Regions from separate parts of the Homo sapiens genome. Here region 1 is linked to region 2. The links come from fine-mapping of genetic effects on gene expression. A gene starts in region 2. The other region holds a variant in brackets. All regions are shown on one strand. Distances are between the middles of the regions. Region 1 has its middle 36 kb from the start of SUCO. Region 2 holds the start of SUCO (SUN domain containing ossification factor).

Region 1 (16,162 bases), 38 kb after region 2:
ACTTTGCATCAGGTCATTTTAAAGGTCATCAAACTGAAATATAACTTGTACACTCTTCAACTTGATTTTGATAGAGAATTATTTCCTCTGTCTTGCTTCTCTGTGCAACAGTCAGAATTGAAACTGTATATAACATGTACATTATTGCGACAGTAATGGAGTGGCTTTGCAGTGACCAAACTTTAGAAGAATGGATGATCTTTTGGATGTGGGCAATAGCTGCTGCAAAGTGGAGAGGTTGTCTGAACTACCTTCTTCTTCCTGATGTTAGATAATACCTTGGTTTACAGTAACTCAATAAGTTTGCAAGAGCCCATTTTATTCCAATGTAACTAAATCTCAACTTGAATTTATGAGCAATAAAGTAATCACATTAATAGAATAAAAGTTATCTCCTCAAAGCTAGCTTTTCAGTTACTATCGATGGACTTACCCCAAAATATCCTCCAGATTTCTATTTGACCCCTTCTACATTACACAGGCTTCAGTATGCAAAGTGATTCCCAAACAGCACACTTCAGGGTCCTGAGCCTGAGCTAACTGTCATCACACTATCCTTTATAGGATTTGTTTTTGTTCTGGTTTCATGATTTGGAAACACGTACTCTGGCTATGTCCATGTGTCAATGACGCTTCTGCAGTTCATTGTCCTGCACACACTCTTGCTCCCTATGTTCCTTGTTCCCATGTGTTCCTTGTCCACATGGAGGGTGGAATAGTATGAGCTGCTGCAGGCAGGTTGGATGGTTTTTTTATTCCCTCAGAAGAAGTGACCTTTGAGTTAGTGTCCTAATGTTCTTATAAAAGGTGCCTTAAATTTGTCTATTGCATTTAGAGGAAACCTCCAGCCATTACCTAGAAGTGCTGAGAAAGGATCACTCAAGTCAGCTTTGTATTAAGGACAGATATAAAAGTGGTAGACCAGAATGAGACATGGAGAAGCTGGTCCTCTATCATGCTGTCCATCTGTTAAAATCCTACTCTTCTCCCAAGATCCTTATCATCCCTAACTAAACCGATTTCCCTCACCTCTGTATTTCTGTACACTTAATACTCTTCTTGTGACATTTACCAAATTAGCTGTGTCACCAATAATTTAGCATTATGTTAATAATCAAGAAAACTTTGCATTTACCTGATGTTTTAAGGTAGATGAAGTTTCACAACACGTACTATTTCATTTGACCCTTACAACTTCTTAGAAAAATTTGTTACCTCTAAAACTTATTTTCTTCCTCTGTAGAAAGGAGTTATTTCACTCTTTCTTAAAAGAATTAGAAAATGTGTTTATTTTGTCATTCTGGGAAAAAAAATACTTATTCAAATTAAGCCTTGCAAAATCACGTAATCAAATAGTGCTCTTAGGGTCATTGTGAGGAGTAAATGAGCTAAGGGATGTGAAAACTGATTTGTGAAATGCAAAGGCACATCCAGATGCAGAACCACAAAGGCCCTAAGGTTTCTGGTGTTTGCGACTGGGTGCCAAAACAGAGATTTGAAGCAATACATGACAGGGAGAAGATTTACCTGTTCGAAATCTTCTAGATTTAGAATCTAGAAGATAGCTGAACCCTAATCTATCAGAAGAGTATCGATATGGCATTTATCTGTATAACTGGTCAAGCTTAGGGGCTGGTGCTCAGGGAAAAATGTCAGTCCTAGTAGGTGTGAAAGTCAATGGAAGGTAGGCAGTAAGTGAAGGCAGGAGTGTGAATAACACCAATGGAAGAGAATGCAGTATGAGAAGAAGCCCAAGAGACCCCTTGGGATGGAGTCTCTTGGGAAAGGAAAGGAGCTGGCTGAGGAGAAGCTGAAATGGCAAGAAAAGCAAAGGAAGAAATTCCAAGTTGGATACTAGATGTCAAATGAAAGGAAATGAAATTTTGGATTAGAAGCTTAAGAGGCCATTGGGAACTTTCAATATTCTAGTGGGTTGAGGAGTGAAAGGGACATGAGAAAATGGAAACAGTTAGTGGAAAGTTTGCACTGCAGGCTGTCCTTTTGAAAAAATTGGTGACGAAAGGAAACAGAAGATTGGATAGTAGCTTTGGGAAGAAAGAAATAGGACCAAGGAAATGAAAGAAAGAATAATATATAAGGCTTAATAATTATTTATGTCAAATATCAAACACATATCACTTATAGTATGCCAGGCACTGTTCTAAGTAGTTTATGAAAATTAATTCCATCCTCATCACTACCCTATGAAACAGTTATTATTATTATCGCCATTTTACAGATGAGGAAACTGAGGCATAGAGTGGTTAAGTAAATTTCCCAAAGCCACATAGCAACAACAGAACTGGTAATTAAACTACAGGCAATCTAGTTCAAGAGTCCAGGTTTTAATTCATTTACCTTTCCTTTTATAATAATTTTGTAGTAGCCAAACCATTGAGGAAGACGTATCAAGACTTTTTCTTATTTTTAATGAGAAAGATTTCAACTCACTTGGATACTAAGAAGAAGCCAGCACCCTAAGAGATGAATAAGAATTTCTGGGTAATAAAGACAATAAGATCCCAGAGCATATGAGTGGCTATGGTGGGAAAGTGTAAATAAAGCAGTTAGTCTTGGGCAAGAATTAGTAATAATTCTCTCTTAAACAGGAGAAAGATGGTGAAAATAGAGATTTAATTCTGAGGTTTTGAGAAGGAAAGTTGAGCAAATTCATCCAAGATGGATGCTAGTAAAGTTTCTGCTGAGAGATATTGGAGGAGTGGTTCAGGGCTTGAGTAGAAAAAGCTGTAGCTTACTAAAATGGAATGAGGAGTCAGCTTTTACCAAATTGCACTGAGAGCTGACTGAGGCCACCTGGTATGATTACTAAACACCTCCTGTATTCAAAGCAATATGCTGGGATCTTAGCCTCCATTTGTCACAGCTTTTAATCAGTTGAGAAAGATATAGAAGAAGCATATAGAAGAAACAATGGAAGACAAGATCAAATATCACTTGTGTGGCTTAATGCTTTTCATGGAGCTCAGAGAAGGGAGCGGTCAGAGGAGTTGGGGAAAGGCTGTAGCTTGAGCTGGTCCTTAAAGATCAGGAGAATTTGGGGGATGGCATTGAAGGCACAATTTTTGGTGGTGGAGAAAGTGAGAGGAATAGAAGAATCGAAGGAAGAGAGGCAGGCATTAAGAGGTACTATTGGGGCCAGGCACAGTGGCCCAGGCTGTGAGGCAGCATTTTGGGAGGCCAAGGCAGGAGCATGGCTGGAGGCCAGGAGTTTGAGACCAGCCTGGGCAACATAGTGAGACCCCCATCTCTTATTTAATAAACAAAAGGAGGCACTCTTGGTAAAAGCACAGGGACTAGGGGCCAGGAGAGCAGTAATAATTCAGGCCAAAAGATAATCCTACCCCGTGACCCACACCTGATTTGGATCCCCTCAGACCCCACCATCAGTCTTCTTAGCTACTTCATCCCTGCCTTGCTTTTCTCCATAGCAATAATCACTTCCTAATACACCATATTAAAATTATGTTATTTATATTTCCTAGAATGTAGGCACTGTGAGGGCAGGAATAATTGTTTGAATCACTAGTGTATCTCCTAGCTCTACATCAAGTTTGACTTATAAAAGGCTCTCAGTAAAGATTTGCTTGAACAAATACAGCAGCAGTGTCAGGGGTTACCTGGGGTCCCTCCAGCATAGGCTCAGGGATTTTTGGCTCACAACGTGCTGTGAAGAAAAGCCTGACCTAGACAGAAGTGACAGCCTGCTTCTCAAACAGAAGCTCTTTAATACCCAGGTGACAATAAAGCTCTCAAAAATTAAAGGCAAGCAAGGATTCCCCTAGAACTGGGGACTGAGGAAGGCTTCCCTGAGGAAGTGGGGGAGAAAGTGTTTAAGAACTGGTAGATTTTAAGCTAATTGATCAGAATGATTTAAGTCCTTACTAAGGGCTTTACAGGGGCTGCATCAGCCCCGCTAAAAGGGACAGTTCGTTCCAGAGTCCTCTCGGGGAAGGAGCATTTCCTCAGATCTTGGTTCAGGTAACAAGGGCCCCTTGTATTTTTACCAGTTCTTAAAGACTGTCCAATAGGGAAAAAATAATTTTTGCTTCACACATTCAAGTTTAAAATTGGCCTCAAAGTAGGAAACAAAGCACATATTGCTCAGAGGCCAAGAGTTACACGTCTGAGCAGTGCCCAGTGATGGAGTTGATCCATGGTTGGTATTGCCATTGTTCAGAAAGCATTCACAGTGATCATGGGTCTGGGTCCTGTGCCCATCTCGAGCTGCCAGTTCCTTCAGGCATTAGCAGAGTCATATAAATGAATCAGCCCCTCTGTGAAGGGGTAATTCCATTTTCCTGTTTGGTAAAATGAGTATGAGAGTCCTCACTTCCTCTCCATAGCCCCACGTCTGCAGAAGGAAGGAGATCTGCTCTCACCTGTGAACACCTTGTGTTCCATAAAAAGAGAACATTTGCTGTTAGTCAGTGGTACTGCTGTTTTGAAAGCCTATTGGCTACTTGTCAGGAGAGGTCATTTGTCAGGAGAGGTGAGGTGGCAATTTTCTGAGAACCTTGGCATATGCCTGCAATTTCCTAGGGAGAGGCCTGTTGGCTTTTAATTTTCTTCCCCCAGAGAAAACCAGAAAGGTCCCCACCCCCCAACTTTGTAAAATACCCAGAAGGAAAGACTCAGTAAGAAGCCTCTGACTGCCTGCTAGGAAAAGGGTAGGCAGATGGGGAAAACCTGGTTATACCTGTCAACCCAGCCTCCTCAGCTGAAGTGGCAGTCATGAAGAGAAATGCCCCTCCCTCCAGCCAGAATACGCTTGGTGGCAATTTCCCATTGAGAAGAGAGGCAGCTGGGGCTTCAGCCAAACTCCCTGAAGCCAGGGCAGCTCTGCAAGAACTGGGTGCCTGCTTGAGCTCTAGTCTCAGTCAGGGTTGATATAACACAGTGCTGGAGGGCTAGACTTTGATACCTGTCTCAGGATGCTCCCTGGCAAAGGCTTGCATGTGTCATTGTCACCTGACTGATGAGTAAGGCGAAAGTGTCAAACTCCAGTCCAGAAGACTGATGTGGCAGTGTTTGGCTGAGGCAGCGCTGGAGAGTCAGTCTAGCCCCAGGATCAACAGAGGGACTTAGGTTTCTCACCCCATTCTCCTCCCACTCTCCCTCACTTCCTCACCTCCTGCAGTAGACACAAACTCTGCTGAAGAGGCAGAATTACATGGTGAGGACTGATCTATACAAACAATACCTGGGTTCCAACCAGCTCCACCACTTGGTAGCTGTTTGTTTTTTGGCAAATTACTTAACTTTTTTTTTTTTTTTGAGACAGAGTCTCACTCTGTCACCCAGGCTGGAGTGCAATGGCGCGATCTCGGCTCACTGTAACATCTGCCTCCTGGGTTCAAGTGATTCTCCTGTCTCAGCCTCCGGAGTAGCTGGGATTACAGGCACCTGCCACCAAGCCCGGCTAATTTTTTTATTTTTAGTAGAGATGGGGTTTCACCATGTTGGCTAGGCTGGTCTCGAACTCCTGACCTCAGGTGATCTGCCCGCCTCGGCCTCCCAATGTGCTGGGATTACAGGCATGAGCCACCGTGCCTGGCCTACTTAAGTTTTATGTGCTTTAATTTCCTTAAATCCATCTGTAATAGAAGGATGAAAATAATGATACCTACTCCAAGTTCTAAGAGAATTAAAACAATGAGCACATGCACAATGAATAGTGCCTGGCACAGGGGCTGTACTCAATAAATGGCAGTATTAGGTAATAACAATGATACTCCTTGCAGCTCTCTGAAGGTTGCAGCTGCAGGCTGAGCCTGGCGGAAGCAGCGTGGAATATCAAGTTGCTAAAGAAAGTTGTTTAGCAACTTTCATGGGCCAACCCTTCCCCTTCCTTGATCTTGAGAAAATTTTAGTACTTTTGTGTCTTTATAAAACTCAGAATTGTTCTCTGACATTGTAGCTATCTCACCTCACCTCACCCAGTTTATAAAGCTACAGTTGCCTTGGCCATACTGCTGCCCACCCCCACAACACACAGACAACACTCCCCAGGAGGCAGGATTCATTTGGTCGCTTTCCTTTTAGCTTCTCTGGCCCTTAAATTATATTTCCAGGGAATTTGGTGAAAAAAATCAATAACCACCCCAAAAACCCAGGTACCAAATCTGTTTTCTCCATCTGTGACTTAGCATCTCAGAAAACGGAGGCCTCCATATGATGTGGCCATGAGGCCAAAAGTTAATTCACATTTCCAGACTGCCCACATTTCTAATAATTCACATTTGCAGCCCTCTGCTGCAAGATTGCCCTGTACCAAGCCCTTTCAAAACCTCTATCACCAGCTTGGGTGAGGGATGGGTTGAAGAATATCATAAAGCAGTGGAAGCAACTTGAGAGCCATGTTCTGCTATGGAGGCTGGGTGCGTAGTAGATATAACAGTTAAAAGTCGACTCCAGTGCTTCTGGGATATCAGTGTGCCTCTAAATCCCCTGGAGAACGCTTTAAAACATAGTATCCTGGGTCTCACCCCAGAGTTGGAGATTCAGTAGATCTGGGATGTAGCCTGAGAAGTTGCATTTATAACAAGTTCCTAAGGAAATGGGGAGGATGCTGCCAGGGGGGCACATTTTGAGAACCACTCATTTACACAAACTCAAGGGGTTCCCCAGCTTCTCTCTAGCCACCCAAAGTCACTGGTTTCTTGTTACTCTTTAATTGTTTTGTGCAGCAGAGCAGCACAGCAAATAACGCTGCCATTAGGAGAGCAGGCTCTGGGGCCAAACTACCGGGGTTTGAATCTTGGCCTTATTTTACAAGCTGTGTGATCCTGGCCAAATTATTTAACCTCTCTGTGCTCCAGATTCCTCACAAAAACACATATTGATATTTTTTGACTGCTTACTATGCACTAGGCATAGTTCCAATGTATTTACTATTAATTTTTTGATTCCTATAAGACTAAGAGGTAGGTGCTATTATCCCCAATTTACAGATGAACGAATTGAGGCACATCGAGGGATAATAATAGTAAACACTTTATTATTGTGTAGATTAAATGATATAATCCATGCTAAATTTTAATTTGAGCTTGTAAGAATGTTATTTACACTTACTACGGAAGCAAAGATTGGAAGGTCCTCTCCTTTCTTTTGAAAACTTTAAGGATTTTTCTAAGAGGATGAACCATTGTACTTCCATCTGAGTCCTATGGACAGGATCTAGCAATCACATCTCATATCCTCTCCCCCATTTAAGTTCTCCCACAAGAGAAGGGTTTCTCCCTTGCAGACTTTCTGTCTCCAGAGAGCTGCCACAGTTCTAAGGGCCCCAGGGCATGTGTGGGTGGAGCAGTGGGAATTGGGGAGGCATCCAGGAGGAAGTCTGCTTGAAAGCAATCGTGTGTGTTTGCCTGGTTAAGCAGGGAGTCCTGTATGAGACCTGACAGGGGCAGCTCACAAGAATGCAGGCAGCTTGCAAGCTCACTAGACCAAAAGAGGAAAGAAGGAGAGGAGAGAAAATGCCCGGAGCCCCAGAGCTGCGCCAGCACATTCCAGCATGGTTGACACTTGCTGATGGCCTTTGTTTTTCTAGCAGAGCTAGCGAGTAGGGGATAGATACCCGGGCATTGCTTTTTCTGACCTTGACACATTTTAAGCTTTCTTTTCCAGATCAGGACAGAAGGCTTTCTAAAGTAAACCTAGGTTGAATGTGAATACTAACTGGTATTTAATCACCATCATTAAATACCATCAGAGGAGTGAAAAACTGCTGTTTAAATCTTTAGAACTTTCTAGCTATAAGTAAAACATTCTGATATGCAGAGAGTCATCATTCAATTCTAACCAGTTATGCTGGCTGCTGAACCTCCTGTCTGTTCCTACACCCTGCCATGTCCTGGGATTAACTAATATCTTCCATGCCCTTGGGATGTCACCTCCCCCAGATGGTTCTTTGATTCCCTTTCCCAACCTTATCTCTCACCGGGGCTGGATTAGGTGCTGATCCCAGATGCTCTAATAGCCCCTGTTCTTACCATATTATTTCATGATGGCTTGTTTAGTTGTCTGCTTCTTCTATTCAACAAGAAGTTGTAAGCTTCTTATTCATTTGATTTCCCAATGCCAAGCACAGTGCCAGGCAGATAATAGGCAACCACTAAATCTCCACTGATAACTATTTTGTGCATACTGTTCTGTAGCAGGACAAGCCACAGACAAAACTCCTCAGACACCAAGTTGAAGAAGGAAGGGGTTTATTTGGCTGGGGGCATCGACAAGACTCCTGTCTCAAGAGCTGAGCTCCCTGAGTGAGCAATTCCTGTCCCTTTTAAGGGCTCACAACTCTAAGGGGGTGCGTGTGAGAGGGTGGTGATCGATTGAGCAAGGAGGGGGTATGTGACTGGGGGCTGCATGCACCAGTAATTAGATCAGAACAAAACAGGATAGGGATTTTCACAGTGCTTTTCTGTACAATGTCTGTAATCTATAGATAACATAACCGATTAGGTCAGGGGTCAATCTTTAACTACCAGGCCCAGGGTGTGGCGCCGGGCTGTCTGCTTGTGGATTTCATTTGTGTCTTTTAGTTTTTACTTTTTCTTTCTCTGGAGGCAGAAATTGGGCATAAGACAATATGAGGGGTGGTCTCCTCCCTTACTCCCACCCAGCCTTTGCTATCCTGCTAAGTTCTGTGGACCCTCCATTCCTCAAAGACCTGATTCCCACACTCACAGAGAACAGTAAAAGCAGAAACTGTGAGGCATTCTGCTTAGTTAGTGGTAAAACCTGGGGTGACAAATGTTTGACATGTTCCAGCTTAAACTAGGGGTAAATGGATTGAGTGAACAAATGGGAGGTGACTGCCCAGTGTGAATTGGTCCAGAGTGATGGATAGATGAGAGGTG[C/T]GTCTAAGCAGAGACAGAAGAGCACAGGCTTACACAGAAGGCCTCAATAATCCACTTGATCCCTTTCTAGATACCTAGTTCCTCCCATGGTAACAATTCTGATGACAGAGCAGATGCTCTGGAAGACCAGCTTTCCAGCAAGCCTTTACCATACTGATGAGGGCATTAGCAATGCCATAGACTGGCTAAGCCTGGTGTTATAGGACTCGCCACCTCCAAGGGGTGAGTTATATTCTGGCCTAAATCTGAGCCTTAAAGATGTGGCTTGGATTCTGCTGGCAGACATACTTCTCTGTACCCACTGCTCAGTCCTCATCATTGCAGACTTTTCTTCTCTCATCAGTTAGTCCCAAATTATATCCTTGGTCATAAGGGAACCAGGAGGAAAAAGTATATGGGTGCAACTTGTTAATGAAGAACCAAATTATGTAAAATATTTTAAAGGGGTTTATTCTGAGTCAAAATGAGTGATGACTGCCCAGGGAGAAACACAAAGCCAAGAAGCCTTGAGTAAGTGGTCCCAAGGCAGTCAGATTACATTTTGGTTTTATATATTTCAGGGAGGCAGGAGTTAAAGGAAAGACATACATCAATACGTGGAAGAGATACATTAGTTCCATCTGAAAAGGCAAGATATCTTGAAGTGGGAAGGGGGGTGCTTATAGGTTACAGGTGAATTTAGAGATGCTTTAATTTATAATTGGTCAAAGGAGTAAGGTTCCATCTACAACTTGAAGTCAATAAAAAGGAATGTGTTAAGTTAAGATTAGGAAGCTCTGTAGCCAGATTGATAGTCTGTAGGCATGACTTAACCCTTGTCTTCTATGACCTTAGTCTTGTGTATACTTTGGTATCTTATTGCCAGCTTGTTTTGTTAGCCTTATGATCTCTGTTTTAACAGTAATGCTGGTCAGTTGTGCCTAAACTCCAAAAGGGAGGGAGCATAACAAGGTAGGTCCAACCTTTCTTGCTGTCATGGACAGGAACTAAGTTTTTAAGATTTCTCTGGGGTCCCCATGGCCAAGAGAGGGTTCAGTTGGTGGAGAACTTAGGATTTTAAGTTTACAAACTGGACGGATACCTCAAAAGGCATCTATTTATAGATCAGTAGGATCCCTTTTTGGTAGGAGACAGGCAATGAAGATAATGTTCAGGGTCTGGAAGGCCTATTAGTTTGCCCTGGGTAGGATACAGTTGGGGCTCAGAAAACAATACCCCAGAATGAAGGCCTCAGAAACAGCCTCAGGAGCCAAAGGTTTTCTTTGACCTGCTGCTGCCCTCTTGTCTCCCAGCCTGCTTTCTCCCCTGAGACTAATCATAGAAACCAGAATCCCTCTTCACCAAGGTGGGTCAGGGACACCAGAGGGCTTTTTCCCTAAAGCTAGCCATAAAAACTAAAAATATTACTCTAACTTTTCCTCTTTCTGCGTAAAAACTGTCCATAAAGAAATTGTCTGACTTACCTTGTTTGACTGTAGGTCATAAGACCCCCGATTGCAGAGAGGGCTCTGCCCCAAACTCAGAAGGAAGGAGTGCATGCTCAGAGGCTAAGAAGAATCAGGCAGAGAGGCCTTGCTGGTTTTCCCCACTCAGTCTGCTAGCATTAGATCATACCTATTTTGTCCAATCATATTTCTACACAGCTCTCCATACTTTGTTGAACTAAGCATAAAAATGAACCATTTCCCCTTTATCTTTCAGTCTTCAGTCTGAAGGCTCCTGAGTATACATGTTAAATAAGTTTACCTGCCTTTTCTCCAATTAATCTGCCTTTTGTGAGTTGATTTTTTTAGTGAATCTCTGGCCCCTACAGTACCTATGCGTACACCTGGTGCAGAGGACCCCATGATTTTAGTGCTGTCCTTGGTGACTGATTGCTGTCTGTCCATAGTTCAACATGTTTCAGATTCTGCCTTTGTTGCTTTTGTGTGCACGTAGTCTTCTTAACATGAATATAGGCTTTTGGTGCTTCCTTTGTATTTTAGCACAGTTATAGGAACTTGGGGTGAAAGGAGGAGGAGAGACAATGCTTATTGAAATTATATAAAAATCAAGAAAGGCATTGGGGACAGAGCTTCAGTCCCGTCTATTGCCTTTCCAATCTAAGACTAAATTTAGTGTTCTGATTTTACTGACTTTATAAACTTCTAAATGAACGTTTGTGCAAAACCTGTATGGTACAGAAACAGGCTACAACAAAAACATGAGTTGTAATCTATTATGAAAGCTCATACATTTTTCCTGAGGATGCTAGGAAGCTCAAGTGTCCACCATCAGGGAGAATCCCCTCTTACCCCCATGTCCCAAACACTCTAAGCCTACAAAGTTAAGCCAGACCAGAGCTACACCCTTATTTTGGAATAAAATTTGGCTCTACCCAAGCATCACCCTTCAGTGAGCAATGGAGGCCAGATTCAGCAAGACAGTACAAGGAAATCTCATCCCTGGGACAAGTTCTTTTTTTTCCCACAAACATTAAAACTAGCTGAGAGATCTGGCATAGCAAAGTGGGTGATCTTTCTAGCATTCAAGAAGAAATAACTAAAGGAAGATAGATTGGTTGTCTTCAAATATTTGAAAATTTGTTGTTACTGGAGGGGAGTGGCTGGCTCTGTATTATTACTACAGGGGAGAAGTAGAAGAGTGGAAGCATAAAGAGGTTGATTTCACCTAGGCATGAGAAACAACTTTCTTTATTTTATTTATTTATTTATTTATTTGAGATGGAGTTTTGTTCTTGTCACCCAGGCTAGAGTGCAATGGTGCAATCTCAGCTCATTGCAACCTCCACCTCCCAGGTTCAAGCAATTCTCCTGCCTCAGCCTCCCAAGTAGGTGGGATTACAGGTGCCCACAACCACGCCTGGCTAATTTTTATATTTTTAGTAGAGATGGGGTTTTGCCATGTTGGCCAGGCTGGTCTCAAACTCCTGACCTCAGGTGATTCACCCACCTTGACCTCCCAAAGTGCTGGGATTACAGACGTGAGCTGTACCCCACCCAGCCAAGAAACAACTTTCTGTCAATTCCAGCTATCTGAAATGCAACAGTCTGCTTTTGGGGGTAATGAGCTTCCTGACACTGAAGGCATTTTCAAAATATTTAATTTACTTTCTTAAATAAGTGATATATACAACACAATGATATTCAAAAGGAACAAAAAGTTATATTATGAAAATTTCACCTCCTTCCCACCTCTTTTTCCTAAACATTTCTTTTTCTTCTGAAGAGACAATCTTTATTACCTGGCATTTGGTCAAAGGCCAGACAACTCTCTGTGAAGAATATTATAAGTGGTCCTCGGCTTCTGGCATTGGACAAAATTACTTCTGGCAACCTTCCAACTCTTGAATCTCCTTCTTTAAATTTGCAGGCTATCATCCTTAAGGTTCTAGAACAAAATACAAATTCACTGTGCAAGGGTTGGGCTGAGGACTTATAACTTGACAGTGGTAATGTTGGGCTAGTTCTAGGCAGCCCTTATGGCAACAGGCAGCTTGCAACATGACACAAGACAAATATCTGAGAGAAAATGAATTTAGACCTCTGGGCAAAGCTTTTAGGAATCCTTTTGCCAAATGTAGTCCTCCCACCCACCCATTTGAAGTCAAAGACAGGAATAGAACTGCAGGGTGATTGGGAAGCAGGAACAAGAGTTGGAGAAGGAGTTTAGGAAGGAAGGGAGAAGACAGGATGGGGATGGAGTGGAATGGAACAGTGATGGTGCTGCCAGAGACTGCTGAAGGTTCTAACAGCGGTGACTGGACAATGGCCTTTCAGATTGCCCTTTGGAAAACCCCACGTGCTCTTCTTGTTCCTTATTCCTGGCTATCTCCTGCCTTCTCCAGATTTCTCAAATGCCTCTAAAGCCCTCTGTCATATTACCTATAAAGCATGATTTATTCCCCTGACACACAGAACCACATGTAACTTCATAAATGGAGTCTCTTTTTTATGTATCTTGGAAAATTCAAAGGCATTTTTTACCCTGGAGGTAATCTCAAGCCTCTGTTTCTGACAGATGAGTTTGGTTGCAGCCTTCAAGGGTATTCAGATCTCACAAATCCAGGTGGCATCTGTCCTATTTCAGGAGCTTGGCTACTTCCACAGCACAAATGGAGGAAAGTGAAAAGGAGAAGGGCTTTCAAGTAGGACTCAAGACTGACCTTCAATAGAAGGTACAAGAGGCCATCTTGCATAGCTCTGGTTCAGCTTTTTAGAGGGAAAACAAATAATAAAATCATTTTATTACCATGATTGTTTCAATGGCCATTATTCATTTTAAAGGCCAAGAAGTCAGTATTTATAAAATGTAAATTGAAGAAAAAAATGTCTAGACATATTTTTGTGTCAGCAATAACAAAGTACATGACAAGCAGAATCAAAAAGTCATGAAGGATTTTCTTATTCAAGACAGTTTTGCAAGATATCTCAAGGAACAGAGTGTTATAGAGTTCTATGCTTGGAAGTGGGTTTGGCGTGAGTTTTATAAGCATCTCCTCACCTGTAAAGCACTTATGAACACTCTGTTCAAGAACCTTGGCCAAGGAGATTTCTGGAAGTAGAGCTGGGCTGGGGCTGGAGTTGTGAGCATTATCCATGTCACTTGAGACAACATTGTGCCATAGAAACACCACGTCTACTGAAGACAATGGTGGTATCAAGGATAAAAGTAATGCTATGAAGAGCTAACATATTTAAGTACCTACCACAGAAACATTTGCTGGGTACTCAGCACATATGGTATGTTCTTAGTTTTGCCTCAACACTCATAAGATAAGGAATCATTGCAACCTTGTTTTGCAGATTAAGAAACTGAGGCTCAGAGAGGTCAAGCTACTTTCCCAAGGTCACATAGCCAGCAAGTGAAGGAGCCAAGGTACAAATGCAGACTTCTTGACTTCTCAGATGCTGCTAACTCCTATGGTAAACTATGAGGAGCCAACCTAGGAGAAAAGAAGAAAACACAATAGAATGATTTCACAGAATGAGCTTAGGTAAGAAGAAAGGGGACAATTAGAAAAGTGAATAGTAGGAAAAACAAGAGTGGGACCAAGTGACATGCAAAAAGTAGACTGTGGTGAGTGATGTGGAACTAAATGTGTAAATGGACAAATAGGCTGAGACCTGCCTTTTATTTGATGTTTGTGTGGTAGAGTCAGTATGAGCCTTAGAGGAACCCTGCTGGCATGGCTATCATCTCGTACCCCCAGCAAGGCTCCCCACTCCAGGACAGGGCAGACCTGGAGAAGGAAGTATATGTGCTTCACGGGTAACCTGGGCCCCAGGTTCAATCCTGCAACCTATAACCAGAACCCCGTGTGTCTGGCTCTGAATCTGTCCAGAGTGTATTGTGAAGAGGATGTATCGGCTTAAAGGAGTCACACTGGGCTGAAAATGTGTATCTCTAAGGAACGTATCACAGCATACTCATCTCAAGCATTCATGTATAGGAAACCCTATTAACTTAGCAGCATGAGAAGTGGAGAAACTTTTATCAAAAACTATGTGAATGATGTAAGTTGTGGGAGAATGGAAATAACTGTCTACTTGTCTTGGTGAACAATGCTTATTGCCAAACTTATGTAAACTAAAAATAAAATCCTAAACCACCCCCCTTCCCCACCAACTGAGCAGCTCCCCTCTTGGTCAAAGGGACCCCAGAGAAACCTTAAAAACTGGGAGTGCCTAAACTCCAAACTGTTGTGCCTAGATTCCAAAAGGGAGAGAGTATAAGGGAGAATCCAACGTGCCTGGTTCTACTCTCTCCCTTTTGGAGTTTAGGTACAACAACTGACCAGCATTAATGTTAAAATAAATATCATCAGACTGACAAAACAAACTGGTAATAAGATACCAAATTACAAACAAGACTAAGGCCATAGAAGGCAAGGGCTAAGTCATGCTTACAAACAATAAATGTTGCCAAACATATCATATTGTGGCTAACTCTGACGTAGCATTCATAACTTAATTCCTTTCTGCTAACTCCAAGCTTTTAGACAAATTTTTGTTCCTTTAATTGCAGATTATAGAATATCTGAATCCACCTATGACTTGTAAGCCCTTGCTTCAAGATATCCCACCTTTTCGGGCTGAACCAATATATACTTTCCAGGTATCGATTTATGCTTTTGCCTGTAACTCCTACTACCTCCTTGAAATGTATAAAACCAATCTGTAATTTAACCACCTCAGGACCAAACTTGTTGGGTTTGTGTTTTTCCTTGGGCTGTGGTCACTCATACTGGCTCAGAATTAATATTTTAAAAATATTTTACAGACTTTAGTTTTTCTATTAACACACACAAAAAGTATTCCTGGTGTATCACAAATAAGCATTTCAGTACAATGATTAGAAATAACCTTCTTTGATCTAATCTCCACTATTACAAAGATCTTAAATTGGTAACTGTGACTTGAGCACATTCAAACCTGGATTTGAGTTTTTCCCTTGTTCAGGAGAACCTCAGCCCTGTTGGAGAGGGTTTATGCATGCTAAGGTTTCTTTCTCCTTTGCTTAGAGGAAGAGGTGCAGCATGCAGAGGAAGGGTCTACATGTACTTCTTCAATTTTTCATACTAGGTTAGAGGCAGAAAATTATTTCAGCCCTTGGTAGTTCCCACAGGACATCACCTATATGCTTTTCTAAGCATGAAGCTTTATTACACTGTCAAATTTCTGTTCCCAAGCCAACTCTGAGTATCCCTACTTCCCTTTGAGGGCTAAATGCATTGAAACCACTCAGTACTGACTTGCTTTTGAATACAGAGAGCCAAGCTCTGGTGTGCTGGAGTTGATTCCTACTGGTTATGAAAGTGATGAAAGTGATTGTTAACTTTTCCAAAATTTTGTGAGTTGGTTGTTAAGCTGTTGGTAGCTTGAAATTGGTCATGCTGGAAGATTTATACCACAGAAATTGGTGAATGGTACAATTGAAGGCACTTAAAAAAAAAAAGGTAAGAGGCCATGATTTAGCTATGCGCAATGGCTCACACCTGTAATCCCAACACTTCGGGAGGCTGAGATGGGCAGATCACCTGAGGTCAGGAGTTTGAGACCAGCCGGGCCAACATTGTGAAACCCTGTCTGTACTAAAAATACAAAAATTAGCCAGGTGTGGTTGTGGGTGCCTGTAATCCCAGCTACTTGGGAGGCTGAGGAAGAAGAATTGCTTGAATCCAGGAGGTGGATGTTGTAGTGAGCCAAGATCACGCCATTGCACTCCAGCCTGGGCGACAAGAGTGAAACTGTCTCAAAAAACAAAAAAAAAACTTGTTG
Region 2 (16,162 bases):
TATGAGAATCTAATTCTGCTGCTAATCTGACAGGAGGTGGAGCTCAGGCAGTAATGCTCACTCACCTGCTGTTCACCTCCTGTTGTGAGGTCAGGGTCCTAACAGACCACGGAGCAGTACTGGTCCGCAGCCCAGGGGCTGGGGACCTCTGCTTTACGAGGATAACTCCAGCCAACTTTTTTTCTTTTTTTTTGAGACGGAGTTTCGCTCTTGTTGACCAGGCTGGAGTGCAATGGCACGATCTTGGTTCACCGCAACCTCCGTCTCCTAGGTTCAAGTGATTCTCCTGCCTCAGCCTCCCAAGTAGGTGGGATTACAGGCATGCGCTACCATGCCCGGCTAATTTTCTATTTTTTTTAGTAGAGACGGGGTTTCTCCATGTTGGTCAGGCTGGTCTCGAACTCCTGACCTCAGGTGATCCGCCTGCCTCGACCTCCCAAAGTGCTGGGATTACAGGCATAAGCCACCGTGCCTGGCACTCCAGGCCAAATTTTATCTGCATTCAAGTCTGCATTTTTAAGTGCCCATAAAATGTCTCCACTTGGATATTCCATTCACCTCCAACTAACAGCTCCTTCCCCTTCCAAGCCCTTTGCCAACTCTTCCACTTCTTTTTGACCACCACCAATTCTTCTAGTTGCCCAAGTTAAAACAAACAAGCAAACAAACAGAAAACAAACAAAAAATGCTTAACATTTCTTTTCTCATTGAACTTTATTTCACAGATTCATAATTTTAGGCCCTAGAATGTACTCTCAGTGACAGTGTGCTCCAAGAAAGCAGTTACTTTGTTTTGTCCACCAGAATCCTGTATAGGATACAGCACACTGAAGCCTAAGTAAATATCTCTTTGCATTGAGATGGACAACAGAAAGGGGATGTTGAACAGAGTTTGGTTAGAGGCAAACTAAAATCCAGTTATTTAGAATCCTAGCCTAATGCTGTTATCTGCTGCACTGCACTGCACTACTGCCAGCTTGCCAACCTTTCACAAAATTAAATCATTTACCTCCTCAAAAATCTCTATTTATTGTACCCTGTTCTTTATTTCTACTGCCAAGATGAAGTCCTTCTTATGACAAGCCTCAATTACTCCAAGGGCTTTTTAGCCCGGTCATCCCTTGGGATCCAGAAGGGGTTGGATCCAGGATCCGAAGATACCAAAATCTGAGAATGCTCCAGTCTCTTACATAAAATGGCATTTGCATATCACCTATGCATATCCTCCCATATAAATATCTAGAGGTGATTTAAAATATCTAGAGATGATTTAAAACATCTATGCATATCCTTCCATATAAGTATCTAGAGGTGATTTAAAATATCTAGAGGTGATTTAAAACATCTATGCATATCCTCCCATATAATATCTAGAGGTGATTTAAAACCTAACACTATGTAAATGCTATGTAAATAGCTGTTATACAACATTGTTTTTATTTGTATTTTTATTGTTGTATTGTTATTTTTATTGTTTTTAAAATATATTTTCAACCTGAGGTTGGTTGAATCTGTGGATGTGGAAAGCCAATTGTATTCACCCCTCTAAGTCTCCTTCCTCTAAAAACAAATCTAGCACAATTATGTCAAAATAATGTTCTCACAACACCACTTTTCTTGCTGAATCTTTATTATCTAATTCTTTGGACTGGTTTGCAAAATCTACCACAATCTCTGAAATCTCTCTCTTTCTCCTCAGGCTTTTCTGTTTACTACCACTCTTACCCATATCAACTAGATTATCTCTTCCATTCATAACTCTCTTTCTCCTTGACAATTAAGTGCCATCTACCCACTGCAAGCAGGCAGACAGACATACACATGCACACACAAAGAAATAGCCATTATTCATGTTATCAACACCAGTACATCTTATTTCAGCTCATGAAGCTCCTGTTTGCACAGAAGCAGAGTTTATAAACCACACATTTCCCTTAAACCCAAGTCAAGCCTTCCTTGAGAACTCTAGCCCTCATTTTCTCCTCTTAAGCACTTACTATGCAGTTCAGTTTTATGTGTTGTTTATTAACATTCAAATCAAGTATCTTAGAATGTTAGACATATAAAAAATAAACTGAGTTCACCTAATACAGTAATACAGACTTGAATGCATAAAAGAGTATCACAAACTTACTGACAAAATCTACAAGGTAAGAATCCTAGGTATGCGTATTTCTTTTAAAAGTTTCATGAACAATTCCAATGTCCATTCCTTCCTAGGCTAATACAGGCACCCACATTTTCAGATGAAAAAAACTGACACTTTGCCAGATAAAATTATTAACTAGAAAAAGTGAAGAAACTTGCCCAAGACCATCTACCAGCCAACTGGCAGCACAGCATACCGGTTAAGAGAACACAGGCTTAGAACCTGGCCTTCTTAGTTCTGGCTCTGTTGCTTCCTGGCTGTAAGAACTTGGGCAAGCTGTTAAGAACTTAACTTCTTTGTGCCCACCTTTCTTCATCTTTAAAATGGAGTGTCTGCCTTAAAACATCTATACAGAGAATAAAATAATTTAATGCATATTACACTGAATAGTATTTAGTACTTAGAAGAGAAATAATCACTCAATAAATGTTCATATTAACAATGAAAAGAAAGAACTACAACCAAGCTCTGACATAGTTTTATGCCTTTCACACTACACCACTATCTGTATTGTAACAAGCAGCTTATATACAGAGCTCAAGTCTCACAATTCTTCTGTATCCTTCATCACACCAAATACATTGTGAATAATCAAATAATATTTAAGTGGATTTATAAATTCCCATTTTTAACTCTGAAACCTAGGCCATCTTATTTCTACTCAACAAATTACCAAAGTAGCTAGAGTCAATGAATAACTCATACAGTAGTGCTTACTACGAGTGAGGCACTGTTCTTAGCCTTTACATGTTTTTTCTCCAGTAGATTACAAACGCTACATAATAATACAAAATTAGCTTAGTACCTATGAACCGTATTAATGTTACAGAATACTTTCTGATACAGCCAGGTGTCACTTTCATGTAAAATATAAAATAATTTTAACTAGCAATTAATTATAAAGTCCTAAAACCAAATCTTCTTTCAAAAAAACTTGCATTTATTAAACAAATTCATCCCAAAGGATTAACACTCTTATACTGCAAATATTCAAAAGCAATTTCCTATTCCCTTGTGACATGTACAATTTGACTTTTAAATTAGTCTAAAATATGGCCTTGAAAAACATAACATACAACTGGCACTAAAGTATAATCTAAAACATGTAGATAAGTTTCAAGAGATTTCATCTCTTTCCAGTTATGTATAAACTACTAAACAAAAGCATCACGTACATACAGGTGTTTCTATTTGAAGATGACTTGAGAATAATAAAGCACTTAAATTTTTATAAGTTTCCCTTTCATTATAAGCATAAGAATATTAATTATACATATTGATTCTTTTCTCCATTCAGACTGTTGAGAAAAGTGAAAGAGTGATGTACAAGTTCATGAACAAACGAAAAATGAAATAACCAATACTCAAAAGAGCTGATACCTTTTATTTTTTCCATTGCCTGTCAACCCTACTGCCTGCTTCCATTCCAGTATATCCTCAAATGTTTAATAACATAAAGGACCAACATGAAACACGTCATTTGCCGTCTTTTATTGGACACAGTGTTCAAGTGTTATGCAAAGATGTCACACACCTTCTTTCACAGACCTTTTCCTATTAAGTGGCTTCATCTAACTTGTCTGAAGGGATCTGACACTGTATGACCCGACACCTCTTATAAATAAAAATACCAGGTGCTTTCTTCAGAATATATATCCTAGAGCAAAGATAAACTTTTTTTCCTCAGTCTTTCACATTAAGTTCCACTAAAAAAATCATTTTTGTAAAGGTCATCTTTCATTGGTTTATTCAAGGAAAGAAAAAAAAGGCATCAAATGATTTGGAGAAGTGGGATTGTTTTATTATTTTATTTATTTCAAATATTATTCAGAAAAGAAATAGATTCCGTACCTTGAAAGTTTAGAGACAGAAGCAGAAACAAGCAAAAAAATTCCTCCAGATTTCCTGGGGAATTTTCAAAATGTTTTATCGATATGTTTCCAATATGCTCTATTCATCACCTCAAAAAAGAAAAAACAGCTTATATATTGTTCTAGTTTTTAAATTTTTTTCTGCTCACTTATGTATATTAATAGACCAGCAATCATGAGAGAAAAAGCAAAAGGGTACAGAAATGTAATCACAAACCAGGAAATAAACCTCTTAAACTGATAAAAACTGGTCTGACATACTCAGAAAAATTACTACTAAGGACAAAAAGGCCAACATCTTGATTTAGATATCAACTCTCTTCTAGTGGGACCACGACTTAGGACCTCGTGCCTCCAAAGTACGTCCCCTACATTCCACTTTACCCTCCACAGCAATCTAATTAAAAGATCCATGTGACCTCATGCTCCTGTTCTCCAGTTTAAACCACTTCACTTACTCATCCTCTGTCAGGTGGTTAGAATTAGAATTCATCTGCATGATAATCAAATCCTTTCAAAACCTAGCTCTAGCCTCCCTTCCCATCTCTCCTCACATACACTCACGCTCTAGATAACTGGGTAAGTGTTCTCTCTGCCTACAACAAAATTCGCTCATTGTGAACTATCCATCCTGCAGACCATTTTATGGATGAGAGCTGAGGTTCACAGAAGTAACTTGTCCAAAGACATACAGTTAGTGACAGAACCACAAGTAGGATATGAATTCTTCCTTTGCTGTTCCTAAAAACCTTTGTAAGTACCTGTTATATTTGCCAAATGTATGAGACTTGTTTAAATGTCAAGCTCTTCCCGAAAGTCTAAATATAAGCTTCTCCAAGATGATCCTTTGGGGTGAAGGAAGAATAGATTTGTTTAGTTTTAAAAAATAAGTTTTACTAAGATTAATGTAAGGATTCATACAGAAACCCAGGGAAAGAGTGGAAGTCCCACAAACAATGGGTTTTACTTACAGCACACCATGATTCACTGTGGTTTATGTTTCCCCAGTTAGGTAGACTTAGGAATTATTCAGTTTTAACTGAATTGACCCTCACAACATCGGGAAGCAGCTTTTAAAAAAATTACTGCAAAGAATTTAATAATGCAAGCACAGCCAACAAGAAAATGACAGGGCTGACTCCTAAGTAGTTGAAGCTATTCCTCTTCTATACTATGACATAAAATAATCTAGTAGGTCAATCACATAGCTCTCACTAAAAATTATTATTTTAATGAGAACAAAAGGTACCGTTAACAGAAATTATTATTTTTTTCTCATTTTTCTTAAATATCTAACTTGCATTAATTACATACACTAATATACTATTACTATATTGGCACATGTACATAACTTATAGACAATTAAGGTGGATGCACAAGGTTTTACTAATTAAGGGACACACTCAGAATATCCACTAATTATGTTTTTTTCCTCTTTAGGGTGATGCAGCTTTCCCAGTTTGCCCAGGACTGAGGGAGTATGGTATAGGGTATAGGCTGAATAATGCGCCCCCCTCAAAGATGTCTGCATCCTAATCCCTAAATATGTTACCTTACATAGTAAAAGAGATTTTGCAGATGTGATTAAATTAAGGATTATGAGATAGGGAGATTATCCTGGAATGTCTGGCTGGACCCAATGTAATCACAATAGTCCTTATAAGAGGAAGAGGCAGGAGGACCAGTCATTAGTAGACATAAGGACTGAAAAAAGGGTTGGAGTGCTGATGTGAGGAAGGGGCCACAGAATACAGGTGGCCTCTAGAAAAAGATTCTCCCCTCAGAGCCTCCAAAAAGAACGAGCCCAGTTGACATCTTAACTTTATTTAGCCCTGTGAGACATATCTTGGACTTCTCATCCACAGAATTGTAAGGTAATAAATGTGTGTTGTTCAAGCCACTAAATTTGTGTCAATTTGCTACAGCAGGCATAAGAAACTAATGCAGGGAATTCCTAGGTTATGCGACTTCCAGTGTTAAAACCAAGACAAGCTGGTGACCCTCTATCTTGGATTTTCGGTGCTCATAAAAACATCTGGCACAGTAGGTATGAGAACAAAATGTGGTTGAATAATGTTATGATGAAATATTTACATAATACGCTGTTACTGTGTTACAAAGATCTGTCATTTGTATTATTTCATCCTCCTAACAACCCTGTGAAGTATGAATGGATCAATTTCCCCATTCTGAGGATATAACAACTAAGGTTCAAAGAAGTTACATAACAAGTCAAAGAACACATATCTAGTAAATGATGGAGCCACATATATAAAATACAGGCCTCTGACCTATAAAGTACTCAGGAGCCTGTGCTGCCTAGGTTCAAATTTAAGCTCCGAAGCTTAACAGCTGCTTAAACTTAGCCAAGTTAACCTCTCTACTTCCTCACATGTAAAATGCAAAAGGAAGTTAATAATAATACCTATCTTATAGGGTTCTTATAAAGATTAAAGGTGTTATTGTCAAGTAAACATCATGTGTCTGACACACAGCTGTCAGCAAATATTAGCTATCATTGCTCTGTGCTGCAGCTATAGTGCATTTATGCCTAGAATACTCTATACTACTTGATCAAAAATTATAAACTATGCAAAAGGAAAAAACAGCAACAAAAATTAATAATGACATAGATGAAATGGTTTTTCTGTAAACATAATCTAAGGTTAGTACTCAAGGCTACAAGACAAAAGCAGAGGGGAGACATAATCAAGATCTACAAAATTATGATAGTAAACATAACACAGTAATATTGGTAGCATGAGAGGGGAAACCTCAGAAACTAGAATACTGTAGAACAGACATACAGCACTCAATGTACAAAACAGAAACGGATCACAAAATTTTGAGACAATTTGTGAATAACAAAAGAGACAAAAGTGGCTACTAAAAGGCACTCATCAACTCTTGCAAACGTTTTATCTAACCCTAGGACTTGTTGGTAGCCATTTCTGTTAAAGGGAATGAGGTTGTTGGGAAAAGAAATACCACACCAGATTGCAGCAAAAGTTAGAAATCCATTAAGTGCCATTAATTCCAACTTGGCACAAAAGCAGAGGCTTCAAAGAAAAAACATACCCTTTGCCAATCAGCACCAGGTACCACTCCTCTTCCCCAATCTCATTCATCATCATCACCCTTTAAAAAACCCTTTAAGCCTTAATGTCCTATTTTAATGCCTTTTAATCGTTTTGCTAAAGAATAATTAAAATGTCTCTAAATTTGGCAGTCTAAACAAATCTCAAAATATACTAACCCAATAGTTTCTTAAGCTAAAGTTTCTTAAAATGTTCACACTCTTAAACTCTCCACATCCATTTTCCTCACTAGGAGTTAAAAAACTTGACAGAAGTTTATTACTACTACTTTCAATACCAGGCCAACCGATTTGTTCCCTAACAGGGAAATTCATTAGCTCTTCACTAGAGCTAATGATTGAAGGTGAGAAAACATACTGAGGGTTAGCTTAATCAAAAGATAGCCAGAAATTCCCAAAAGAAATAGAAGCAGAGTTAACTTAAATTTACAAATGATTGTAAGAATCACATTCTATTGCTTGATTTCGTTTACACCATCCAATTAAAAAATTAAAAAAAGCCAGAGATACTGGTGTGTTTTTAAACTTGAATGAAAGTGTTCACCTTTTCCTTATTAGCCATTTCAGAAACTTTTGATGATGAATAACATGGTTTAAAGATGGGCAAGACCAAGAAGAAAGAGGAAAGAAAATACACAGTCTACAAATATAACTAGGCAGCCCCAGAAAGAGATGGAAATGAATACAAGCTTCAGTATCTACAAATTTAAATTTAAAATGAGGTGAGTGGATTTATCTCTTACAGGCACTTCTCCGTACCCAACACAGTAAGTAGAAAGGGGAGGATTTTATTAAAAACAGGAGACGGGTATTAAAAGGATTCAGAATGAAAGGTAATAAGTCAATTGTTTTTGTTCTCAAAAACTTCTATCATTCTTCCAATAAAAATCCCTCAGCCAGGCGAGTGTTTTCTCTTCCCCTTGTTTATGTATTATTTTATGTGAGCAACAACTCTACAATTTCAGTGCTTCTGGAATCCATAAGGCATCCATAAAAATGAAAATAGTGTTGGTGCTTTGCAGAAATAAGCAAAACAGGAAACTTAATTTCTATTTTAATATAACAAACAGCAAATCGCCTAGACTGAAGAAGCATCTTTTCAGTCATCAATTGTCACACATCTTTGAAGAAATTCCCTGGGAGGAAAGAATGGCTTTTCCAAGTACGGTGACAGCAGTCCCTCGACTTACAAGCTTTCTCTGCTCCTCAAAAAACTCCAGAAGTGCCTGGGATTAACAGAAACTCCGTAAAACTTAAGGAGTGCTTTAGGGACAAAGCACTCTTCCCGCCTTGAAAATACAGCATTTACCTTCCCGTCACTAAGGGGCATTACCAAAAACTACTACACACACTACATCTAAGACACCCTCTCCACCAAACCAATTGAAAAAGTGCTTCATAACACACATACACACACGCCCCCCAAGTTTCCAAAAACAGCGGCCCGAGTGTACTTGGGATCAAACGCTGTGCGAGAAATGTCCAGGAGAACTACTGCTTATACATTACTCTTACCTTCATGACCACTCACGTTTTAAAATCGCACGTCCGGAACGCATCACATCCGACGTGCTTTATCCCCTTACCACACTAAGAACGCAAAGACTGGCGGCAAATCGGAGCAACTTACTTACCATCAATCTGAACACCCACCCCAAACCCTGCACCGTCTCCAAGGGGTAGAGGAACTGAGTACAAAGGCACTTGGTGGTTCCCTCTACCTTGGCACCTCTCTCTCTCCCACTGAGTCTCTGTAAATTCCAAAATACACCATGAAAATCTCCGCACAGAGCACTACCAGACCAGTCAGATGGAGAGTCGAGAAGTAATCGGTTTGTCCCTTCCACGGGGGCCTTGGAAACCCGGACCCTAAAAGCCAAAATGACCAGGGGGTGTGACCTGGGCTGCTCCCTCCCATTTACTCCCCTCACGGGAACTCCCTTGTCGTCGCGGCTACTCACCAGACCAGAGAGCACAGAAAGAGGCAGGAGACCAGGGCCAAGGCCCGCCGGTGCTTCTTCATCTTCTCCTCCTTCTTCCCCCTGCCAGAAGGCGGCACATCCTCCCGGCAGCCGCCACTGCCGAGGCCAAGATGGAGGAGCCGGAGCAGGAGCGCGAGAATGTGACCGATAGTCCTAAGGGCTATGGCGCTGGCTGAGCGGCTCCTCAGTGGCTCGCGTCCTGGCAGCCCTCTCTGAGGGCCCCACAGAGGCGCGGACAGGGGCGCTTCACAGGACTCCGGGGACCGCCGCCGCTGCAGCCACCGGCTCGTCCACGCCCGCCTCCTGCAGCCGCCACTGCCGCCCCATATCCTCCCCGCCCGCCGGGGGCCTTGCTCCGTGAGGCCAGCGACCAACGGCCGCCGCGTACTCGCCTCTCAACAGCCAATCGCCGGCGGGGCCGCGACACCTCACACACCGCTGAGCTGGAAAGGGACGCGTCACCCAAGTCCCGCGGCGCCCGCACCCCCACCAGCCTCTGCGCAGGCCACGCCCCCTTCGACGTCGCAGGCGGAGAAGCCGGAGGCAGGAGACCACAAAGCGCAGGAGCAGATGCTCTCGCCGCTCCGCCCGCCCCAGGTCCCGCCCACTTGCTGGCTTGCGTTCAGAAAGCCGGGAGGAGCCCAGTGATCCTCAGCATTTCCCCTTACAGTGGACCGCCCTTCGTCCCTCGCGCGCTGAGTCCGCGCAAGGGCCTTTGGGAGTTGTAGTTTGCCTTCCAGAATTCGTTTTTCTCTTTCCCAGTCCCTCCTAGAATCCATGGTTTTGTTAGAGAAGTCTATAGTTTCGCTGCTCACCACGAGACTGATCAGCTTTGGAACTGTTGCACTGTTTTCCTCTTTTGAGCACAGTTCGTGGAATGGCCTAGAATGACGTGTGTGTTGTGAGGGAAGCTGCACCAAGCCCTTTCCCTGTGGCAATGGACTGCCCCATTGAGCTAGATGTTGATTGGTAGATAGAAAGGGGCGTGCCAAGAATCCTCTCATCTGATTGGTTGCAGCGGAAAACCTTTCGCTTTTTCTTCTCTTCAGCAAGAATTTCGCCGCTTGCCGGGTTCCTCACTTTAAGTGTGCTTCGTTGCTTTTCGTTCTGTTGGTTTCGAACTTTGGGTTCTCTGCGATGGAGTCGGAAGGGAGGAGTTGTCCCCATTAGAGGAGCACCCACAGACGCTCCAAGTCCTGGGGTTCACCTAAAGTGGGGAAGGCAGTCGCTTACACTCACCTAAGAAGAGCAAAAAGTGACCACTTCTCAATACTAAGTAACGGGGCAGCATGCCCATTCCAAGTGTTTACGCCGCTGAGGGGACGGAGGCTGCAATGGTCTGTGCCTTGGAACATGGCATAATGTTTAGTGTGAAAAATGTTTAAAGGACGGGTTACTTATTGTTCATGTGGCCGTAGGGAAAAAACCCTCAGTAAAATGCCCACCTAACGCCTAATTTTGAGCCGCGGAATTTCCTTATGAACCTTCTAAGTTGAATTGGATGTTAATTATAGTCCCAAAGAACTGAATGATTTGATCCGCTCTGTGATTCTTGGATATAAGTCAATTTGATGTTAGAGAAATTATACAAAGGGTGATAATTTTTGTTTTAAAGGAGTTCACCCTGAACTGCCTTTTCTGGCAGTAATTAGGTACAGTTCCACTTATCTGCTGATGCCACTCTTAGTATATGACAATAAAATCCTTTCATCTGTCACCTATTGCGGGAAGCAAGTATTTATCTCACCCAAAAACAGTATCAAATGATTAATATGCAAGTTTAAAAGAAAGTAGGGGCAATGAAAGGGTAGGGATAAATTGACATTCTTTACCATGTTGGACACTCTTTTCCTCTTACTCCAGGAACTTTTATTCAGGATAGGAAACAGCTGAGGTATCCCTCAGCTGATCCTCAGTGCATCACAGCCAAAGAAGTTATATTAGAATACGTGCTTATCTCAAATCTAGGAAGTTATCAAGTTACATCTCCTAACCCTCTCATCCCAAACTCACAAACCCATCCACTTATTTTCCACCAAGTCCCTGCAATGATTTTTTGAAACATGCAAGTACAAATAATTTTACTTTTTTCTTTCTCTTTCATTCCTTCCTTGACTGCCTGCCTGCCTTCCTCCCTTCCTTCCTTCCTTCTCCTGCAGTTGGAGCTTTATTAATACCCCCGTGGTAGGCTTTCCATTCACCTAATTATCATCCAATTATTAGCTTTTACTATTTCAATCTATAAATGTTCTTTTCTCTTTTTGCAGCTTCATTTCCATGGTTTCATGTTAAGGTTTAATCCTTCACTACTCCGAGCTTTTTCCATTTTTCTCTTGAGCAATTTTAATTTTCAACTATACTGTTGACTCCTAAACCTATATCCCATCCTCTTTTCAAGTAGTTGCTGGACATATTATTCTATCACTTCCAATTTTACCTGCACAAAATTGAACTCATTTTCCCCATAAATTAGCTTCTTCACGTGACTTTCTATATTTGTGTTGATTCTTTCCTATTCTAAGACTTCAGATGAAATAAATAGAAGTTCCATAGAGCTGACCTTTAAAGAACTGGTAGACATTTTTCCACATATCTGTTAAATATAATGAGAAAAAGAACAGAGAAAATTTTCTTACAACTCAATAGACAAGTATAAGAAAGTGAGTAATAGTTATATAAAATAAAACTAGTATAGATGAATGTCACCATACTTAAAAGTATAACATATGCCAAAAATGGCAAGAAAGAATATAGAAAAAGAGCATGTATAATGTATAATCTTTCATATATAATATTTAATTATATATATAATCTTTTAAGGCTTAGGCTAAGTAACCACTATCAACCACCCCTTAACTATAATACAGTAATTCTCAACCTGGGGCAGACTTCCCCCCAGGGTGAGATTGGCATTGTGTGAACACATTTTTTGCTTGTCACATTGGAGAAGTACTACTGGCATCTAGTGAGTAGAGGCCAGGGATGCTGTTTCACATCCTACGGTGCACAAGAAAGCCCTCCACAACAAAAATTATTTGGCCAAAAAGTCAAAAGTGCCAAGGTTGAGAAACCCTGCTGTAACAGAATCTCCCAATTCAATAAAATCTATAAAGCACTGACCACACACAGGATAACTCGTTTGCCCTGCAGATCCTTGGATTATTCAGCAAGTCACTAGGGCCTAAACTGCACAATGAACATGAGTTCTCCCATTCCTAAAAGGGTGACTAAACCAGAAACTCTGGGCAGCTCAAGTCCCTGCCTTGATAAAGATCAGATACTCTGTTTGCTTATGGTAAAAGAGAACAAGCAGACCTTAGAAAAGGAACCAACCCCTTCTGGCTATCTCGTTTGTTCTTTATCTCATATACAAATCATATTTAAGACACCCAAGAGAACTGTGTTGTCTAAGATGGTGGTATTTCATGAGCAAGCTTTTATGTATTTTGATTTAGTTGAAAAATTACCTGCTCCTTTCAATATTACAAAATGCTGAGATCCTATATGTCTCCAAAGGATCTTAGAGACCAATGACATTTAGATGCTTCCAGAGTAAAAGTCAGTTAAAACAGAAGTTTCCTGGAAATCAGTCAAAGAAAGGTTGGGGAATGGAAAACAGACAAATGGACAATAAAAGAGACTAAATAAGATGGAAAAATGGTGAATGTGGCAATCAGCACTTAACATTTTAACCGCATAAAAAGTATAAACAGAACTTTTAAAACTGTCCCCCCGATCATCTTCTTTATATATATAAATATGTGTGTAGAATAGCATATACCTTCTTTATTTAGTTACTACCTACCTGAAAAGAGCCTTAACTACTTAGCCTAATCTACCTTAACAGAGCACTGGTAATTTGGCCACTTCAGGAGGTAAAGGTAGAAATCAGAAGAAGACATAGATTGCTTTATTAGTACAGTCTGAGAACTCAGTCTCTTGAGGGCGGGAAGATCTGAGGGCGGGAAGATCACAGAGTGCAATGTTGGCATGCACGGTTCTGTTTTTACTGCAAATAACAAAAGGTAAGATTTCCCTTTTTAAAAATTCTACTTTGTGATCCCAAATTCAGTCTTCTATCACTGCGTTAACATATGTTTATTTTGAAGATACATGAATTGAATAGGCTCATAATGGAATCAACTAGAGGAAGGGAATGATTACATGTGGGTGACAGAGAAGGAGACATCAAAGATGGTCCAATTTCTAAGAACGTATGTGCCATTATATGAGTAGGAAAGTCAGGAGTTGCAGATTTACAATTTAAGAGACTAGTATGGTTTTGGAAGCACAGTATTGAGGTTCTGGTGGAAGTATCTAGCAAGAATTTACAAGTACAAGATTCAAAATAGGGAGAGAAAGTAGCAACTGAAGCAGCATGTTGGGGATTGTAACTGATGCGTCCTTTAGTACCTCCTGTATAACGCTCTCAGATGAAGCTTCCTAAAACATTATCTTCATCATGTCCTTTCTTTGATGCAAAAATCTCCTACAGGTCTGACGTATTTGTGAAATAAAGTCCTGCCTCCTTGGCCTGGCATTCAAAGCTTTCCATAATCAAACCCAGTTGATGTAGTTCAAGCTTTATTTCCCACTGTTTTCTTTCATAACTCAACCTTCTCACCAGACCACACTGTTTATTATGACCTGAAACACCTGTGCCTGCCCTCATGACACTGTTTTTATTTAATAGTCATTTGTCTCCCCAAGCAGTGAATAAATTCCTTATTGCAGAGAGGTCATGTGTTTTATTGATATATATCACACAGTGACTTTTTTTATTACAGAGGCCCAAGAAATAATTTTTTACTTTTTACTTATTTCTTTGTCTAATCACCTTAAATTACAATTTGCCTTATAATTTAAATTCCTAGAAGTAGCAAGCCCTTAGGATGAGAACGTTTTATGCAGTTGACTAGTCTAGAGCACCTAGCCAACTATTTCTTTCTCTATAAATTACCAAATTAGCTTTTTAGCATAACATTATTTGACTTATGTCTGAATAGATTTTCCTAGGTTCTAGTTACCCTAAGTAACCTGGAGAAATAAAGTGTTCAGTAAATATTTATTGAGCCTTTTTTGTATTAAAGATGCTGAGACAGAAATTTGCTCCAGGAAAAGTTTAGCGTTCTAGCAGGGAGTCTTAATCTTCTGAACTGAACCCTTTTGGTAGTCTGGTAAAACCCTTTTCAGAATGTTTATAAAGGTATAAAATAAAACACATAGATTACCAAGGAAACTAATTGTAGGGAAATACAGTTATTAAAATATTACAAAGCAAATTTGTGATCTAATAAGGTGTGCTTTTTCATTAATGCATAAATAACAAGGTCTAACAGCAGGTCTCCTAATGTCAATAATTCCAAAATGGTGATGAGTATAAGAGACATTCCAAGATACCTACAATATGCATAATGTGATATGAAAACATCTGTGATTAATATTGGTGACAAAGTTGTAGATACAGCCAGTACTACCACAGTTTGTTACCTACATTCACAATAAAATCAAATTCTAAATTTCAGTAGAGGTTAGGAGAATGGAGATATAATTATTATTCCCTCCATGGACCTGTGAATTATATACATGGATCCCAACTAAGAAGTCCTGCAAAAGAGCAATGTTTTTTAAACTGTGGGGTCACAATTCATTAGAGAGTCAAGAAATGAATCTTGAGGGAATCCAGCAGCACTTTTTAAAAACTAAAAGACAATAATTTAGAAAATATCAGAGTGTGTCTCAGCAAGAGGAAGTATTTTTGTGGGGCAATCTTATTTCAGTAATATATGTGATGTGTGTATACGTGTGTGTGTACTGTTATATACATATATGCATACTAGGTTGCAATGTAAAATATATGTCTGGGATTTTTTTGTTTTGTTTGTTTTTTGTTTGTTTGTTTGTTTGTTTGTTTTGAGACAGATTCTTGCTCTGTCACCCAGGCTGCAGTGCAGTGGCACGATCTTGGCTCACTGCAACCTCTGCCTCCCAGGTTCAAGCAATTCTCCTGCCTCAGCCTCCGGAGTAGCTGGCAGGAGTAGCTTACAGGTACACATCACCACGCCTGGCAAATTTTTGTATTTTTAGTACAGACAGGGTTTTGCCATGTTGGCCAGGCTGGTCTTGAACTCCTGACCTCAAGTGATCTGCCTGCCTCTACCTCCCAAAGTGCTGGGATTACAGGAGTGAGCCACCACTCCCTGCCAAATATATGTCTTAAAGTGAGTTACAGTCAAAATAATGTGAAAGCCACTGCTCTAGGGGAAATGAAATACATAAGATATATGGAATAAATGCCTCAAATAATATGAATTGTGAGTATCACAAGATTTTAGAGGAAAAGGAAATTACCTTTTTGTGAGGAAATTATCAAAGACTTAAAAGAGGCAGATATAATGTGGTTCTTTAAAAATGAGTATGATTTTCATAGAGATATGAAGAGAAGGTATTTCAGCTATAGGGAACAGTAAGCACTAGAATCGAATTCAAAACTATTTTACAACCCTTATGTGCCTTCTAATTTTGTCTAAAAGTGTCAATAACTTGACACTTATTTGGTATTCTGTGTTTGAAATAGTGAAGGTGAGCTCTAATCAAATAAAATAAACAGGTATTTTTTAAACACATAAAATACTTCACTATAGGTACTGTGGGGATTTTTTTAAAAAGCATTAGAGATATTATTTTCTATGAAACAAAGTATTCAAGAACATTAAAATAACAAAATGTGGTACAAATACAAAGTGATCAAAGTTCAAGATAATTAAGTTGGGGTAAAGATAATATATTCATTGCACACATGCAATTACTTTTACTCACAAAACCCCATAAAACAACAGAAAAGAGTCTGTTTGTTTGTTAATACCCAGGCTGCAAGGATGGGAGATCAGGTGAGAGGGCCATAAGAAAAAAAACTTGAAGCTGGAAAGCAGATAAGTAAGAAATTCTTCCTAACATGATGATTTGCTGATCTGACAAGCCTAGTTTACCACCTTTAATAATCCTGGCATAATTAATAATAGTACCAACTTTTACTTTTGTAGAAGTGGAAAAGATGTGATAT

Evidence for each region.
Region 1: its variant is fine-mapped to the expression of SUCO in esophagus mucosa (GTEx, PIP above 0.99).

The regions. Positions count from the first base shown.
Region 1 is chr1:172,488,674-172,504,835 of GRCh38, reverse strand. No RefSeq gene overlaps it. Among named protein-coding and RNA genes, the nearest start is that of SUCO, 36 kb to the left of the region's middle. RefSeq lists enhancers at 4,913-5,207, 6,869-7,369, 7,370-7,870. The variant C/T (reference allele first, on the strand shown) is at 8,883.
Region 2 is chr1:172,526,414-172,542,575 of GRCh38, reverse strand. It overlaps SUCO (SUN domain containing ossification factor), which reads right to left and starts at 9,426. Exons shown (of 24, transcript NM_014283.5): 1 at 9,079-9,426. The coding sequence starts at 9,140. RefSeq lists enhancers at 9,038-9,197, 9,808-10,057, 10,118-10,227 and a silencer at 9,318-9,487.